Linked DNA regions of Homo sapiens: region 1 is linked to region 2. Evidence: fine-mapped expression QTL. A gene starts in region 2. The other region holds a variant in brackets. All regions are shown on one strand. Distances are from middle to middle.

What was found.
Region 1: its variant is fine-mapped to the expression of ARSG in whole blood (TOPMed, PIP above 0.99).

The regions. Positions count from the first base shown.
Region 1 is chr17:68,307,989-68,317,229 of GRCh38, reverse strand. The region is part of intron 2 of ARSG (arylsulfatase G); the gene reads right to left. Among named protein-coding and RNA genes, the nearest start is that of ARSG, 21 kb to the right of the region's middle. The variant T/C (reference allele first, on the strand shown) is at 4,828.
Region 2 is chr17:68,285,946-68,295,186 of GRCh38, reverse strand. It overlaps ARSG (arylsulfatase G), which reads right to left and starts at 3,692. Exons shown (of 12, transcript NM_001267727.2): 1 at 3,619-3,692. It overlaps SLC16A6 (solute carrier family 16 member 6), which reads left to right and starts at 4,060. Exons shown (of 6, transcript NM_004694.5): 1 at 4,060-4,101. RefSeq lists an enhancer at 2,605-2,834 and silencers at 3,694-3,868, 3,235-3,924.

The sequences.
Region 1 (9,241 bases), 22 kb before region 2:
TAAATAGAGTTTAGAAGTCTGAAAAGGGATACCAAAATATGAAGTCACCGAAAGATTCTGCTTTTCTTCCCCCAGATTCCTTTCTTCCTTTAACAAATAACGACATCATAATTGTGGTACGGATGGTGCCCTTTCTGTGCAAAAATGGGCAAATCACATCTCCTGCAACCAGGTTAAAAACAAACAAAAAACGAATCGTGTGCGCTGGCCACAAACTAAAAGGGAAATGTTACTGAGACCTTTAGGTGTTGACTTGGGGATTTGGTCTAGGAATGAGAAGAAACAAGCAGATTCTAAGAAGCCAGATGAGTCCTACAGCTCAACCTGGGGAAGGGTGAGAGTCTGGGAATAGATAGAGCAAGGTGCTTTTGGAACAGACGCTGAGAAAACAGGCCTCACCCTCCAGCCAGAGGAGGGAATTGTGACGAACAGGGGAGCAGGGCCGGTGTCATAGGGAATCATAAGAGCTAGCACCCATCAAGCACCAATACATGCCAGGGACCCTTTTGCTGCCTTATATGACCTAACTTATTTCCTCCTCACCATAGCCCTGTGATGTAGGTGCCATTATTTTCCCATTGCAGAGATAAGCATACTAAGGTCCAGCAAGGTTTAATAACTAGCACAGTGTCCCAGAGCTAGCAAGTAACAGACCAAGGCAGTCTAGTTCCAGCTCTCATGCTCGGGTCAACCCATGTGTGCACACCTAGAAGTTTAGATCCAGGAATCCAAGTACGTGAACAATTATTGTTTGAGCACCTACCATGTGCCAGGCATTGTTTTAGCCACTGAAGACATAAATAAGACAGATAAGGAGGCTGCTGTAAGGAGGCAATATTCCAGTGGGAGAGACAGGCAACAAAGAAGTAAACAAAGAAGATCATTTCAACAGTGATACAGGTCATGGAAACAGAACAGGAGAATGGGTAGGAGATGTGCATGGGGTAGGAAGGCAATGTTGGAGAGCACGGTCAGGAAAGGCCTCTCTGAGGACATGGTATTTGAGTGGAGGCCAGAAGGATGAGAAGCGATCAGCTGCTTGAAGCCTGAGGAGAGACCTCGCCAATAAGAGGCAACAGCCAGTGCAAAGGCCCTGAGGCAGGGAAAAGCATATGTTCAAGGAACAGAAACATGTGCAATGTGAGGAACATGAGGAGAGGGTTGGAGATGAAGCTGGAGTAGGCAGGATAAGATTGCAGGCACCTGAAACTGCAGCCATCACACATCCCTGGCTGGGTGAGCCTCCTGAACGATGGTTGCATCAACCATTTTGATGACTGACATCTAAATCCCATTTCTGCCTGGGTGCCACCCACGCACTTTGTAATCCCAGCACTTTGGGAGGCCGAGGCAGGTGGATCACCTGAGGTCGAGTTCAAGATCAGCCTGGCCAACATGGTGAAATGCTGTCTCTACTAAAAATACAAAAATTAGCCAGGTATGGTGGCACACACTTGTAGTCCCAGCTACTCGAGAGGTTAAGGCAGGAGAATCACTTGAACCTGGGAGGCAGAGGTTATAGTGAGCCAAGATCGCGCCACTGCACTCCAGCCTAGGCGATAGAGCAAGACTTCATCTTAAAATAAATAACTAAATACAATCCCATTTCTCAGGTTGCCTCTTATGCTTGGACAGCACAAAAATCCTTCATTAGCACCAAAGGGAGAAAAAAAATGATGAGATTCCAATCTCCTTTTTTTTTTGAGACAGGATTTCACTCCATCACCCAGGCTGGAGTGCAGTGACACGATCATAGCTCACTGTGGCCTCAACCTCCTGGGCTCAAGCAATCCTCCTGACTCCGCCTCCGGAGTAGGTAGGACCACGCCCAGCTAATTTATTGATTTTTTTGTAGAGATGAAGTCTTGCTATGTTGCCCAGGCTGCTCTCAAACTCCTGAGCTCAAGCAATCCTTCCGCCTCGATCTCCCAAAGTACTGGAATTACAGATGTGAACCACCACGCCTGGCCTCCTGCTCTTTGACAGCCATATGGGAAAGCTGGCCAAATCTTGATGGATTCTCTTTGCTGATTCCCCAGTTCTGCCCAGCCCTGAAAGAATAAGGCTCTAGAATGAGGAAATCTGAGTTTGAATATTGGCTTGGCCACTCACCAACTCTGGGCGTGTTACTTAACCTCAATTTCCTCATCTGAGATATAAGAGAAAAGTAGGGTGGTACCAAGAATTAGCCAGGGTAATGCCTAGAGCCTGGCACCTTGCAAGAGCTTGGTAAGGGTTAGTGATTGTTGCAGCTGTTGTGTTGATTCAAATAAAGGTGTTGGCCCCAATGCACAGCCAGCATAGGGATTAACAGGAATTTGTCACTGGAACTCCACCTCATCCTTCCAAGTTTTGTCACTGGACCTTTTATCATGCAGATTAGCCAATTCACACTGACATTCCATTTGGACATTTCTAGTAACAATAACAAAAATAACCATAGCTAACATAGAACCCTATCTATTGTATGCTAGGCTCTATGCTAACTGATTACACAGATTACTTAATTTTTTATTTTTTATTTTTTTTATGAGACACTCTGTTGTCCAGGCTGGAGTACAATGGCATGATCATAGCTCACTGCAGCCTTGAACTCCTGGCATTAAGGGATCCGTGTGCTTCAGCCTCTGGAGTAGCTGGGACCACAGATGTGCAACACCACACCTGGTTTACAGATTACTTAATTTTTTTTTTTTTTTTTTTTGAGATGGAGTCTTGCTCTGTTGCCCAGGCTGGAGTACAATGGCGCAATCTCAGCTCACTGCAACTTCCGCCTCCCGGGTTCAAATGATTCTCCCGCCTCAGCCTCCCGAGTAGCTGGGATTACAAGCATGTGCCGCCACGCCTGGCTACTTTTGTATTTTTAGTAGAGATGGGGTTTCTTCTTGTTGGTCAGGCTGGTCTCAAACTCCTGACCTCAGGTGATCCATCTGCCTCGGCCTCCCAAAGTGCTGGGATTACAGGTGTGAGCCACTGTGCCCGGCCCAGATTACTTAATTTAACCCTCACAACATCCTGTGAGGTAGAGGTGCTATCATTGTCCCCACTTACAGAAGAGGAAAGCAAAACTCCAGGGGATGATGCAGTTTGCCCGGGGCCACAGATAGGAAGTGGCAGAGCTGGGATTTGAGCTCAAACTGTCTGGCTCCTGCCCTCTTAAGCATGACATTTAGTCTTTAATGCGACAGATACTGACTGACCACCTACTACATTATAGACTGCGTTAGAAGCGGAGTAAAAAGAGATATGTAGGCCAGGCATGGTGGCTCACGCTTGTAATCCCAGCACTTTGGGAGGCCAAGGCAGGTGAATCACTTGAGGTCAGGAGTTCAAGACCAGCCTGGCCAACATGGCAAAACTCCGTCTCTACTAAAAATACAAAAATCAGCCGTGCGTAGTGGCAGGTGCCTGTAATTCCAGCTACTCAGAAGGCCGAGGCAGGAGAATCGCTTGAACCCGGAGGCGGAGGTTGCAGTGAGCCAAGATTGCACCACTGCACTCCAGCCTGGGCAACAGAGTGAAACTGTGTCTCAAAAAAAAAAAAAAGAGAGAGAGAGAGATACGTAATACAGCTAATTGCACCAGACTGAACAGCGTTCCCCTCAATTTCATATCAATCCAGAACCTGTGACGTGACCTTATTTGGAGATAGCGTCTTCGCAGATGTCATTAAGTTAAGATGAGGTCATACTGGAGTAGGGTGGGCCTTCAATCCAAAGACTGGTATTTTTATTAGAGGAGGGGAGTCTGGACACTGGCATGAAAGAACGCCTCATAACAACTGAGGCGGAGATAGGAGTCTAGAAGCCCAGAATGCCAAGGATTCCAGCAGGCACCAGAATCCAGGAGAGAGGCAAGGAATGGATTCTCTGTCAGAGCCTTCAGTCATAACCTTGATTTTGGACTTCTGGCTCTCCGAACTGTGAAAGGACAAAGTAATGTTTTTTTGTTTTTATTTTTGTTTTTTTTGAGATGGAGTCTCACTCTGTCACCCAGGCTGGAGTGCAGTGGCGCAATCTCGGCTCACTGCAATCTCTGCCTCCCGGGTTCACGCCATTCTCCTGCCTCAGCCTCCTGAGTAGCTGGGACTACAGGCACCTGCCACCATGCCCGGCTAATTTTTTGTATTTTTAGTAGTGACAGCGTTTCACCACGTTAGCCAGGATGGTCTTGATCTCCTGACCTCGTGATCTGCCCGCCTCGGCCTCCCAAAGTGCTGGGATTACAGGTGTGAGCCACTGTGCCTGGCCAGAACAAAGTAACATTTTAAGCTGTCCAGTTTGGAGTAATTTGTTCCAGCAGTCCTAGAAAATTCATGCACAAATAAAAAGGAGGCAACAGAACCGGGCGTGGTGGCTTGAGCGTGCAGTCCCAGCTAGTCACCCCAGACCCTGTTGGGCAATAAGAGTTCGTGTCTGAAAGTCATGGTTCCCCACTGGCCGTGAGTAGGCAGTGGGAGAAACCAGCGATGAATCAGTTCATGGCCTCACAGGAAGCCCGGCTTTCCTGTCAACAAAGAAGAATGAAAAGCCGTCGACCTCAGGCCAGAGGGCTAGCCACCTGGCCACTGTCACAAGGCTCAGATGGAAAGAAACACTTTCATAAGGGGGTGGGGAGAAGGAGAGCCCAACGAACCACATTTGGCATCTGACCCCTGAGTCCTCCTTTCTGCTCAGGATGAGAGTGTGACAGTAGAGACAGCACATGAGAAAAAAAAAACGTGTAGGCCTCGCAAATCTCAGCTTAAATAATGGGACTAATATTTCCCCGCTAACCTGCTAAACACTGAAAGCGGAAGTTCCTAAGCATTTGGCAACCCACGCCCTT[T/C]GGAGAATCTGGTAAATGTTCATGAATGGATGAACTCTCTCCCCAGAAAAGTATTCCTACATGCAAAATTTGGGGTGACATTCCAGGGCATCTTGAGCTCCTAGAGCCCATTTATTGATGAACAAATATTTATTAATTGCCCACTACGTACCAAGCACTGTGTTACATGCTAGGAATATAAGCGGGAAAGAACAGATGAGGCATTTTTCTTCCTGAAGTCCAGAGCTAGGAGGGAGGTGTGTAAGTTTTCTGTGGCTGCCATAACAAATTACCACAAGCTGTGTGGCTTAAAACAACAGTACAGGCCAGGCGTGGTGGCTCAGACCTGTAATCGCAGCACTTTGGGAGGCCAAGGCGAGTGGATCACTTGAGGTCAGGGGTTCGAGAGTAGCCTAGCCAACATGGTGAAACCCCATCTCTACAAAAATACAAAAATTAGCCAGGCATGGCAGCAGATGCTTGTAATCCCAGCTACTTGGGAGGCTGAGGCTGGAGAATCGCTTGAACCTGGGAGGTGGAGGTTGCAGTGAGCCAAGATCGCACTACTGCACTCCAACCTGGGCGACAGAGCAAGACTCCGTCAAAAAAAAAAAAAAAAAAAAGTACAGTACAGGAGGCTAAAAGTCTGAAATCAAGATGTCGGCCGGGCTGGTACCTTCTGGAGGCTCTGAGGGAGAATCTGTTCCATGCCTCTCTCCTTGTTCTGCTGGTTGCCAGCGGTCCTTGGTGTTCCTGGCTTGTAGAGGCATGGCTCCAATCTCTGCCTCCATCTTCACGTCACCATCTCTCTCTGTGTGTCCCTGTGTCTTCTCCTCTTCTTATAAGGAAATGTCACTGGATTTAGGACCCACCCTAAATCGATTCTGAGATCATCGAGAGCCTTAATTAATAACATTTGCAAAGACCCTGTTTCCAAATATGGTCACATTCTGAGGTTCTAGATGGACATGAATTTAGGGAGGATGCTATTCAACCCAATGTAGTGGTCAGATGATTGAACAGCCACCACAGAAAGCAGCAAGGACCATCACAGAACACCCGAGGCATCCACGAAAGCTTTCCTGAGGCCCTCGTGTACAACTGAGACCTAAGTAGTGAGTAGAAACTAATTAAACAGAGGAAGTGGAGAGTGCACCAGGATGAACCCATCACACAGATGAAGGGAGGGCTCATCCAAAGACCACTGCAAGAGAGAAGAGTGGAGAAGAAATCAGTTTGGGGTTTTGTTGGTTTTGTTTGTTTGTTTTGAGACAGAGTCTCAGTCTGTTGCCCGGGCTGGAGTGCAGCAGTGCAATCTCAGATCACTGCAACCTCTGTCTCCCAGGTTCTCCCGTGCACCGCCACATCTGGCTAATTTTTGCATTTTCAGTAGAGATGGGATTTCGCCATGTTGGCCAGGCTGGTCTTGAACTCCTGTCAAGTGATGTGCCCACCTTGGCCTCCTAAAGTGCTGGAATTACAGGCGTGAGCCACCACACCCAGCCAAACTCCAGTTTGTTAGCTGTGGTATGGGGTATGGGTTTTATCCTTAGGGCTAAAAAATGTCTTTGAAGGACTGGAAGCAGAAGAGTGTTTCTACAAAGTTCACCTTGATGGAGGTGAGGAAGAACTGGAGTGGGTGAGACCAGATGCAGAAACTACCACCCACCAAGGGCGCGTATCTCAGGAAAAGCATCAAGCTCTAGGATGCAAGTGGCCAAAACTCTGTGGAGATGCCCTATGCGTCATCCTAAGCGGTGAGCTGAAATGATTCCCCCCGAACCACATGGAGGAGTTTCGCCCAGTGCAGACAGAATCCGAGCTGGACAATCAGACCAATGTTAGCCCAAGAAGAAAATCCTGAAGTCTGAAAGCTCTAACGCTTGTTCTCCATCTAAGAAGGGAAAGGAGCTGGGTGTTTTAACAAAAATCTGCAATAGCTGTTTTCTAAACACTTCAACTCATCAGATGCATAGGCTCCTCTTTTGTGGTCCCTTAGAGTTCAGTATGCCTTAAGTGTAAGCCACGCCTTTCATAAATAAGTGAGTCACATCTCCCACGCCTCACAGACTCTCTTTTGCTCTTCAAAGGCCATCTCCTCCCTTGAAACCCCAGGTTGGGTTCCACACCCTCGCTTCTGTTCTCCAAAAACTCTGGATGTTGGGGCTGGGTGTGGTGGCTCACGCTTGTAATCCCAGCATTTTGGGAGGCCGAGACGGGCGGATCACCTGAGGTTGGGAGTTTGAGACCAGACTAACCAACATGGAGAAACCCGATCTCTGGGGTTTCTCCCCAGGTGGCACACACCTGTAATCCCAGCTACTCGGGAGGCTGAGGCAGGAGAATCGCTTGAACCCGGGAGATGGAGGTTGCAGTGAGCTGAGATCGTGCCACTGCACGCCAACCTGGGCAACAAGAGCGGAACTCCATCTCAAAAAAAAAACACAACAAAACAAACAAACAAACAAAAAACTCTGGATGTGGGCTCAGAAGCTATTTGCTTATAATTCTTATTTCCCTTTCTTTCTTTATTTATTTACTTTTTTATTTTATTTATTTTTTTTTAGACAGAGTCTCACTCTTATTGCCCAGGCTGGAGTGCAGTGGTGCGATCTCAGCTCACTGCAACCTCTGCCTCCCAGGTTCAAGTGATTCTCCTGCCTCAGCCTCCCGAGTAGCTGGGGTCACAGGTGCCTGCCACTGCGCCCGGCTACATTTTGTATTTTTAGTAGAGAGAGGGTTTCGGCAGGTTGGCCAGGCTAGTCTCGAACTCTTGACCTCAGGTGATCCACCTGCCTCAGCCTCCCAAAGTGCTACAGGCGTGAGCCACTGCACCCAGCCTATTTACTTATTTTTTAAGAGACAGAGTCTCGCTCTGTGACCCACACTGGAGTGCAGTGGCACAATCATAGCTCACTGCAACCTTGAACTCCTGGGCTCCAGTGATCCTCCTGAGAGGTGACAGCGTGCTGGCAGTCCTCACAGCCCTCGCTCGCTCTCGGCGCCTCCTCTGCCTGGGCTCCCACTTTGGTGGCACTTGAGCCCTTCAGCCCACCGCTGCACTGTAGGATCCCCTTTCTAGGCTGGCCAAGGCGAGAGCCGGCTCCCTCGGCTTGCAGGGAGGTGTGGAGGGAGAGGCGCGAGCGGGAACTGGGGCTGCGTGCTGCGCTTGTGGGCCAGCTGGAGTTCCGGGTGGGCGTGGGCTTGGCGGGCCCCGCACTCGGAGCAGCCAGCTGGCCCTGCGGGCCCCGGGCAATGAGGGGCTTAGAACCCGGGCCAGCAGCTGCGGAGGGTGTACTAGGTCCCTCAGCAGGGCCAGCCCACCAGCACTGCACTCGATTTCTCACCGAGCCTTAGCTGCCTTCCTGTGGGGCAGGGCTCGGGACCTGCAGCCCGCCATGCCTGAGCCTCCCACCCCCTCCGTGGGCTCCTGTGCGGCCCGAGCCTCCTCGAGCACCACCCCCTGCTCCACAGCGCCCAGTCCCATCGACCACCCAAAGGCTGAGGAGTGCAGGCGCAGGGCGCGGGACTGGCAGGCAGCTCCACCTGCAGCGCCGGTGCGGGATCCACTGGGTGAAGCCAGCTGGGCTCCTGAGTCTGGTGGGGCCTTGGAGAACCTTTATGTCTAGCTCAGGGATTGTAAATACACCAATCGGCACTCTGTATCTAGCTCAAGGTTTGTAAACACACCAATCAGCACCCTGTCAAAACAGGCCACTCAGCTCTACCAATCAGCAGGATGTGGGTGGGGCCAGATAAGAGAATAAAAGCAGGCTGCCCGAGCCAGCAGTGGCAACCCGCTCAGGTCCCTTTCCACACTGTGGAAGCTTTGTTCTTTCGCTCTCTGCAATAAATCTTGCTACTGCTCACTCTTTGGGTCCACACTGCTTTTATGAGCTGTAACACTCACCATGAAGGTCTGCAGCTTCACTCCTGAAGCCAGCGAGACCACGAGCCCACCGGGAGGAACGAACAACTCCAGACGCACCGCCTTAAGAACTGTAACACTCACCGTGAAGGTCTGCAGCTTCACTCCTGAGCCAGTGAGACCATGAACCCACCAGAAGGAAGAAACTCCGAACACATCTGAACATCAGAAGGAACAAACTCCAGACGTGCCACCTTAAGAGCTGTAACACTCACCGCGAGGGTTTGCAGCTTCATTCTTGAAGTCAGTGAGACCAAGAACCCACCAATTCCAGACACACTCCCACTTCAGCCTCCCGAGTAGCTGAGACCACAGGAGCGTGCCACCACCGCTAGCTAATTTGCTTTTATTTTTTGTAGAAGTGGGATCTTGCCAGGTTGCCCAAGCTGGTCCCAAAATCATGGGCTCAGGTGAACCTCCCACCTGAGTCTCCCAAAGCATTGGGATTACAGCCATGAGCCACTGTACCTAGCCCCTTACTTTCCTTTTAACCTGTCTTCTCTACCA
Region 2 (9,241 bases):
CCCCTTGCCAGTTCTCCCAAGGTCCTCTCTGCCAGTTGAAGGCTTCCCTGATCGCCATCCTCCTCAATCCCCCAGGACTCACAGGTTGAAAGAGTCGCAGCCAAGAGTTAGGGAACCTGACCATGAGCCAATCCCAGTGCTAAGCCCCTTGCACGTGTTAATTCAGTTAACTTAGCAACTGTACTAAGCCATGCACACAACTCTGTAGTATTATTATTATCATCGTCATCACTATCTGTGCCTCAGAACCCCTTGGCAAATCTTTAAATTCTCCCAGAAGTGTGTGTTTCCCAGTTTGAAGGGCCCTGCCTTCCTACAAACTGTGAAATTTGGCGGGGTGCTGCGGGGGAGGAACCCAAATCACAAAATAAACCTAGCAGAACTACCTGTACCATCGGTTCACTGTTGCTAGATGGCAGAGTGTGTGAAGTTCCTGGCCAATTGGAGAAGCAGATATTAAAGTTTTAAAGCAAGAAATTGCTTCAGTGGCATACAAGTCACTTGCCCAGAACACAAGCCCCTGGGTGGGAGCATGGTGGGTGGAACAGAGACTGGAAGAGGAAGAATGGAAGGGTGGGTGGGCCATCGAAGCCTCCCATGGAAGCCCCCTTCACATATTCTCCCCCTTTGATGGCTGCCCTGAAGAGTCAGCCCCCAAAAGCAGGCTTGCGGGACCCTCTTCCCAGAGGTCCAGACCAGATTCCTTTCAGTCTACTTACCCAAGTTGAAGTTCTCACAGGCTGGTAAATGCAGTGAGCTTATTTGCAAGCCAGGGTCATATCTGCCTAGCAACCCAACACGAAGACTTGAAGGACTATAAACGTGGACAGAGAACAGGCAGGCCAACTTTACACAAAGGAATCTGTTCTCATGCAAATGACCCTATGCAAGAGGGCTAAAAGAGGGAGCCTTGGGGACAGCTCTGAAGAGCCAACTTTTTCCCCAAGAAGATGTTGGGGGTCTTCTTAAGGGCATCATGATGGTCTTGCCCACTGTAAAGGAAAGCCGAGAGGGGGCTCTGCCTGCCACTTGGGATCAGGCAGACACAACAGGAGAGGCTAAGAGGGGAGCTGAGCCCTTCACTTGATTTCCTGATTTTTCTGGTCCTGTACTCCAGACTCCAAAGGTTCTTTTGTTCTTATTTAGAACTAAACAGAGTTAGTTTTGTTTGGGGGCAAGGGGGCGTTGATTAGCATGGCAATGCAGTGCTTTCTCTGGAGAAGTTAAAAAAGCAGGGGTTTTCACGCTTGGTCTCACTAGGATTGAGGGAACAAGGTGAAGCCAGCCTCTAACTAGGGTGGGCAAAAGTCATGTTGCGTGACTTTTTTGTGACTAGCAAGGCTGTGCGTAGGTTGGGTTTCCAGCTACCTCTCCATTATTCAAACACAGATGGCAAATGTCATCTTTGGATGAGCTCTAGTGGTAAAAAGTGCTAGTGTGTATCTATAAACATGGTGTAACCTTAGGTCAATCCCTCCAGTGCTCAGTGCCTCCACTTTCCTCATCTGTAAAATGGGAATAATGAGTGTCAACTACAGAAGGTTACTGATGCGGTTAACATTGCATTACATGTATGGCACTTAATGCAGTGTTGAGGACAAAGCAAACATTTAAAAAAGATTAATATTAATAAAATATAAGAATAGTAACACATTAGTAACAAAAATCTATTATTATTATTATTATTATTATTAGAATCATGCTCCCCAAAAGCCAGGTTTCACTTGCTCAAACATTCAGATGTGATTTTTCCAATCATTCATTCACTCCTGAGGATTTAGGTATAATTTGAGTCATTTTTTAAATCAAGAGACTGAAGTACAGAGATTTTATGTGACTTGCTTCGAGTCACTCAGGTATAAATGGCTGGCTGCACCTTTAGGTTCCTAAGACATACAGAATATGCTGTCATATTGCACATGATATTTCCATATAGAGTACAGTAACAGGTCCTAAGTATTAAAGTGTAAGATCCTAAATATCAAAGATTATCTTACAGGCAGCCCTGCATTAGCATGAAGTGTTCAAATCAGTTTCTAAATATCATTATATATGGATCCTTTGAAGAACAACTCAAAAAAGGGCTCTCTCTCACAGGGAGTGTGTTGGAGTCAGCAATTAATTGGCCTTGGTAAAGCATAAATCGTAACAGCAGCAAGAGCTAATGGGTACTGAGGCCTTACCAAATGCCAGTCACTGCGATCCGCACTTTACAAGTACCATAAATTAAACCCTCCAATTCTGGGAATACCACCTCCATCCCCATTTTACAGATCTGGAGAAATTAACGCTCTACGAGGTTAAATTACGCCTACAAGGTTGCAAAGCTGCTCAGCGGCCCCTTGGCTGTACACTACTGGCCATACAAGGCACCCTGTACCAACGAATCTTCTCCCCACTTACACAACCAGAACTTGTCAACGGCAAAGGATGGCATTTAACTCAGGAGAGCCTATCCCAAAATGGTGAGAGAACTCAGCGAGCAAGGAAGGATTTTTATTAAAATTCAGATCGCCGACTCCTCCCGGTGGCGACCCTCCGTGCATGCACTCCCAAACTAGGCTCTCTTGAGTTTCTGACATCAGAACCACATTCTCCGAACCCCAATGAAGGCAGCAGCCGGCGCCAAAGTCTGCATACGAATGCAAATAACATGGCCTTTGCTTCCGAGCAGTTTCCAAATTTGCCCTCGGGATGTGAGGTAGAGACCAAGAAGCTAAGTTTGCGCCCCCGCAGGCTCTGAAATGTCTAGGATCTGACACATGCTTTGTCCCCATGAGGAGCTCCTGAGATTTCGCGTGCATCATCCGCTTAGTTCACGGTGACCTTGGGGTCGGGGACTACGGGATGAGGGGCACGGACTGTCTAAACCTCCAGGTCCCTTACAGAGGGCTCCCCGCGGGTATGGGAGCCATGCACCTGTGCCGACGCCGCCACTGCCTGGAGGGTGCGCGCGCGCCCCGGGCCGGGGATGCTGACTCAGCCCGGCTGCTCACATTCCTTTCGCGCAACGCGGATGCTGTTGCTGCCGCTGCTGCCGGTGCAGCAAAGTGGGGGAAGCAAGGCACCCGCAGCGGCCCGGCCGCTCGCTCCCTGGGGCCCACTGCGACACTCCCTCCCCACTGCCGGAAGGGGAACTGTGGGGGTGCGCGAGTTGACGAAACTGGGGGAAGTGGGCGCTGCAGGAGGAACTCAGGCGCCGCGCGCGCAGCTCACACCCAAACTGGAAGGAACCTGTTCTGCCCGGGGCGGGCGCGAAGCCGCCGCAGCCGCGAGCGCCGCGCGGGATCAGCCCCGGCGCGCGCGTGTTCCCCCTCGCCGCTAAATCCCTAAATCCTCAGGGCGCGGGCGGGACTGGGCGGTGGGCGCGCCGGGAAGGCGCCCGGGGGTGGGGACGGGGACCCGCGCGCTCGCGCCTGGCCGAGGTGCTCCGAGACAGGATGCAGGCACCCCCAACACCCTGCACGCTCGCGCTCCTACTAGCGTTGCAGCAAAGCTCCGGGGTCTGGGCGGGTCACGCGCGCAGAGGCGCACCCGGGTTGGGAGATCGGGGCGTTGTGCCAAGGACCCCGGCGGCGCTGGCGGGGGCGGCCCGGCCCCGGACCGCGACGCGGTTACCTTTCGTGACCCCCAGCCCAGGCGGCAGGCTGGCGGGCGCGCGACCGGCGCGGCTCAGGTCCACGTGGGACGGCGCGCGCGCGCCAGGCAGGCCCCCTCCTTGGCTGCGCTCAGCGCTCGCAGCACATGGTCGGCGGCGGCGCGCCCCCGAGGCCGGCGGAGACCGGCTGCAGCCGGTATAGGATAAGAGCTAGGCAGCGACGCGGGGCCGGGGCGCGGGCGGCAGCACGCACGGCCCGGGTCGCAGGCGGCCGGGGTGGGGGGCGGGGGGAGGGTGTGGCTCGGGTGCCCGAGTCGCGGGAGTGGGTGGAGGGCCCGGGCGCTCGGGCCTCACCAGCCCGAGCCAACTTGCGCTAGAGTCGGGCCCGCCCCCTAAGGGGTTAATCCTTTTCTCATGTTACCGAGCGGCTTATAAGGAGGGGGAGGCCAAGCCTCCGCCTTATTGGGAGCCTTTGGGGGTTTATTCTCTTCCCTTCTAACTTGGTGAGTTGGTTTATTATTTTACATGTTTAAAAGTTTGATTGTGGGATGTGGGTTGTTTTTTAAAAAATATGTGTTGGGGCCTTTTTTTGTGATGGGAGGCGGAGGAGACCACTGAACATCTTCACATTTTGGAGAGGTTATTCCCAAAAATATTCGCTCTGACAGTTAGGAATGCCCAGGGCCACCGGGATGACGCGCTCGCGCCGGTGTGGGTAGCTGAGAGTTGAATGTCCGTGACCCTGGTACAGTTGGGTCCCGGAAGATACCTAAAGGCACGCCTGGCCTTTGAGTGCCCCCTGCCCCGGGTTGGGGGCTCCGGGACGTCGGAAGAGTCGGGGGCTCCAGGCTCAGCCCCTCCGCGGATTTTCCGCATGAAGTTGCCTGCGCGTCGCAGGAGCGAAATGTCAGAGGTACCTTCCTACCCCAGGCTGGCGCGCGCACGCAGGCCGGGCACTGAGGCAGCGCGAGGGAAAGTGGGGCTCCCTGCCTCCCCCGACCCCCAAACACAGCACTCCCTGCGGCGGCCACCGTTTGTCCCCAGCGGGAAGCCGGGGATTTCCCGGCAGAGCGCGGGTCCTCCACCTGGACTGTCAGAACTGTCAGCGGCTGACGGCCGGTCCCGCGCAACTTCAAGGTTCCCGGGCTGCCAACCGCAGGAAAGCGCTGGTGTCGCCAAGCAGTTCCGTAGCAAGGGAAGATGGTTTTGCAGAGGAAATGGGTTATTTCCTTCTAGGTTGTTGTCGTCTTTTCTTTTTATTCCCCCCACCCTAGCAAGACAGGTCATAGAAGTTTGTTAGGTGGCGTATATAAAATGTCACCAAACATGGGGGGCGTCAGTCTTAGAAAAAGCTCCCCGGAGCCAACTGGGGAAGAGCAATTACAACTTGTCAACCTGGAAGCCGGTTTTGTTTGCACGGTTAGACACTCCGTGCCAGCTCCTTCTCGCAGGAGATGGTTTCTACCCCGGGAATGAGATTTCTCAGTGATCTGATTGTTTTTGCAAATCATGGTAAGATAGGTGTCTTGCTTGTAAAAAAGATGCCAAGTGCTTATGCTGAAATCTCTAAACCATGCATCTCCCCATGTCCCAAGCACCGTTATGTGGCATTTTTGGGGTCAACAATACATCCGGCCAGATGATATAATAGAAACCCCTCTTCTCATAATTAAGGGAAGAGTGTCCAAAATAGGAACTTACAGTGTGTAAATAAACAATGCAGCCAAGTGGAAAAGCTCCTTCCAGTGTAATGAGTACCACTAACCCTGAGTTTTCCTTCTGTGGTTTCCGAAAAAGGACTTTCCTCAGTGGAACTCCTGAGGAGGACACTTAAATTAGGGGCTCAGGTTTCAACACCATAGTCTTGTAAAATGGTGACTCGGTTGTAGCCAGTGATTCAACATCGTGAGGCAGCTATCCAGGTTAGGTTTGGAAATTTTTTTTAAATAGAGAATGCAGATGAACTTTAGCCAAATACAGACTGGTTTTGACAACTTGGGCCAGAAACAACTTGTCAAAGCTGTTCTCCGGGCTACGCCTTTAAGAAGAAGAGAAATCCGCAGTGCTTTTGCTCGAGGTCTGCCTACAACAGTAGCCACCCCATTTCCATCCAGAGCCTGCGTTTTGAAACTTGCTCTTAGCTGACCCTGGAATAACACTCTGATGGTCTACAATAATACAATTTTTTTCATGCCCTCGGGCCAAATCTTCTCTCGACAAATTAAATCACAGTGAAACTCCCAAGGATAGCGGATTTCCAAGCCTTTGGCAAGATACCTACTTATTTATTTGTTTAGAGGCAGGGTCTCACTCCCATCATGGGAGTGCAGTAGCGTCATCTCTGCTCATTGCAGCCTCGACCTCCCGGGCTCAAGCGATCCTCCCACCTCATTTTTTAATTTTTTTGTAGAGACACAGCCTCACTATGTTGCCCGGGTTGGTCTCAAACTCCTGGGCTCAAGTAATCTGCCTGCTTCGGCCTCCCTAATTGCTGGGATTATAGGCATGAGCTACCGCACCCGGCCAATACTCATTTATTTAAGGGGACACTTAACCACATGCTACTAGGAAATCCTCCAAACTGCCCGTGGATTGTGTCATTGTACTTCCTCCAGAAGAACACTAGGGTGAAGGGAAGATGGCTGCCGGGAACCCCCATTCAGAATTGTCGAGTTTTGTAAGTTGGAAAAGGCTTGAGAGACTCCCCTGACAACCCATGCTTTACAGATGATAGAAGTTCTAGAAGTTCAGGATTCTGTGGTTTCCATAACTGTGCAGCCAGTTAATGGTACACAGAAATTAACAAATATGGCCTAAGAGCTTTAAGAAGACCAACTCTTCGGCCTTGCCTTCAAAGGGCTTAGAAGGATTAAAGCAAGTGACGGTCAAAGGCTGTCATAGAAGTATAGACTATTAGGGCAGGAAGAGATCTAAGCTCATCAGAGTCTAGTTCAACTCCCTTTTTTACATTTACCTTGATTTTACATTGACATTGAAAATGGGGAAGTGAAGTGATTTGCCTAAATTCCATCATCCGTAAAGCAGGGGTTGATGGGCAGGATGACTCAGCTCGCCTCACCAGTTAGATCCCTACACAGCTGAAAAATATCCCTACCCGTCAGATAAATTCACATGGCCACAGACCAAAGTGGACAGATAAACTTTTATATTCTGGAACTTACAGAGGCTTCTGCATAAATGAGTTCAAAATTCAGGCCTCAGTTGCTTTGTTTGCAGAGACAGAAGGTTTGGCCTTCTGCTGAAGGAATGGAAAAAAAGAAAAGGAGAAGGCCGGGCACAGTGGCTCACGCCTGTAATCCCAGCACTTTGGGAGGCTGAGGCGGGCGGATCACAAGGTCAGGAGTTTGAGACCAGTCTGACCAACATGGTGAAACCCTGTCTCTACTAAAAATACAAAAAAAAAATCAGCCGGGCGTGGTGGCATGCGCCTTTAATCCCAACTACTCAGGAGGCTGAGGCAGGAGAGTCGCTTGAACCCGGGAGGCAGAGCTTGCAGTGGGCTGAGATCGCACCACTGTGCTCCAGCCTGGGAGACAGACTGAGACTCCATCCCCAACCCCCAAAAAAAAAAAAAAAAGAAAGGAGGGAGGGAGGGGGAGAGAGAGAGAGAGAGAAAGAGAGAGAGAAGAGAAGAAGAGAAGAGAAAAGAAAAAAGGGAGAAGAGTCCAGGAAGGGTTTTATTCTGCAACCAAGCACTTTCTCCCCTTATGACTCGGTTTTTTAAGGAAAGACCTGTGCATGACTTTACTTAAATACAGGCATTATCACCCAGGAAGGTTCAGAAACCAGGTTATCCTGTTATTACTTTATATTGTGGTCTTATCTTCAAAGCTAAATTTAATAGGACATAGGATGCTTTAGGATGATAAAGGCATAAACCTTGGGGGTAGGACGGGGTTCAGGGTGTCATCTTTCCTTGATGGAGATCTCAGTTATAAAAAGAAAAGAAAGCTTCTGTCCAAAAACCCAAGAATGCAGGTGAAAGTTATATGTGGCTCTAGCTAGAGTAGAATAGCTCAGACATAAAGCAGAGTTTTTTAAAAAAACTAAGGAATTAACTTCCCAGCAGTGGCTCAGAAAGGAAATAGAAATGAATAGTCCACCATCTGGCTAGGTGAGGTGGCTCACACGTTTAATACTATCACTTTGGGAGGCCGAGGTGGGAGGATCGCTTGAGTCCGGGAGTTCCAGACCAGCCTAGGCAACATAGGGAGACCCTGTCTCTATTAAAAAAAAAAAGAAGAAGAAGAAGGCTGGGCATGCTGGCTCACGCGTGTAATCCCAGCACTATCGTTTAGATACTATCTAACGTTTAATACTATCACTTTGGGAGGCCAAAGCAGGCAGATCACCTGAGGTTAGGAGTTCAAGACCAGCCTGACCAACATGGTGAAACTCCATCTCTACTAAAACAAAATTAGCCGGGCATGGTGGCGCATGCCTGTAATCCCAGCTTCTTGGGAGGCTAAGGCAGGAGAATCACTTGAACCCGGGAGGTGGAGGTTGCAGTGAGCTGAGATTGTGCCATGGCACTCCAGCCTAGGCAACAAGAGCGAAACTCCATCTCCAAAAACAAAAACAAAAAGTCCACCATCTTCTAAACAGCTGTCATAGAATAGATCTAAGCAATGACCAGCTAGCTACTTTACACCCATGTTTGCAAGAACCATCTAGCATTTACACTTTCTCCGAGCTCAGTTTCCTTGGGCCACCAGGCTTCGCTTAAGCCATCAGTTGATTAATAGAATTCAGTACTAAATTCAAAAGTATCAGCTGTTTCTCACACCTGTAATCCCACACTTTGGGAGGCCAAGGCGGGCAGATCACTTGAGGTCAGGAGTTCGAGACCAGCCTAGCTAACATACTGAAACCTCATCTCTACTAAAAATACAAAAATCAACCGGGCATGATGGTGGGTGCCTGTAATCCCAGCTACTCGGGAGGCTGAGGCAGAAGAATCGCTTGAACCCGGGAGGCTAAGGTTGCAGTGAGCCAAGATCGTGCCACTGCACTTCAGCCTAGGTGACATAGCAAGACTCCATCTCAAAAAAATTAAATACAATAAAATGCTCTCCTGTAGGCTTGTACAGCAGGAGCCCTGGAAGGCAGGAGATTCAGTATTGGGCTATTTCAGTCAAGTCCCTTCACCTCTTGGGGATCAGTTTCCCGATTTTACAAAATGAGTAAGATTTTACAAAAAGGAATTGAAAAAGATAACCTCAATTTTCCCCTTCAGCTTTAACATTCAATAATTCTAACTCTATTCAGGGGTTACAGATTCATCCTAGCCCCATCCCTTTTGCAAGTGTAAACATCTGATGATACAGGCAAGGGAAGAGAGGAAAGGGGCAGCTGGCACCAGAACTTCAGTGCTGGCCAGACAGAGCCTTCTCATGATGGCAGGTAATCTCAGCTCATACAAAAACTGCAATCTGGTCCCACTCATCTAAATGCAACCCACAGCCCGGTCCACATGGTGAGACCCTGTCTCTACAAAAAATAAAAATTATGCCAGGCGCGGTGGCTCACATCTGTAATCCCAGCACTTTGGGAGGCCGAGGTGGGTGGATCACGAGGTCAGGAGTTCCAGACCGGCCTGGCCAACATGGTGAAACCCTGTCT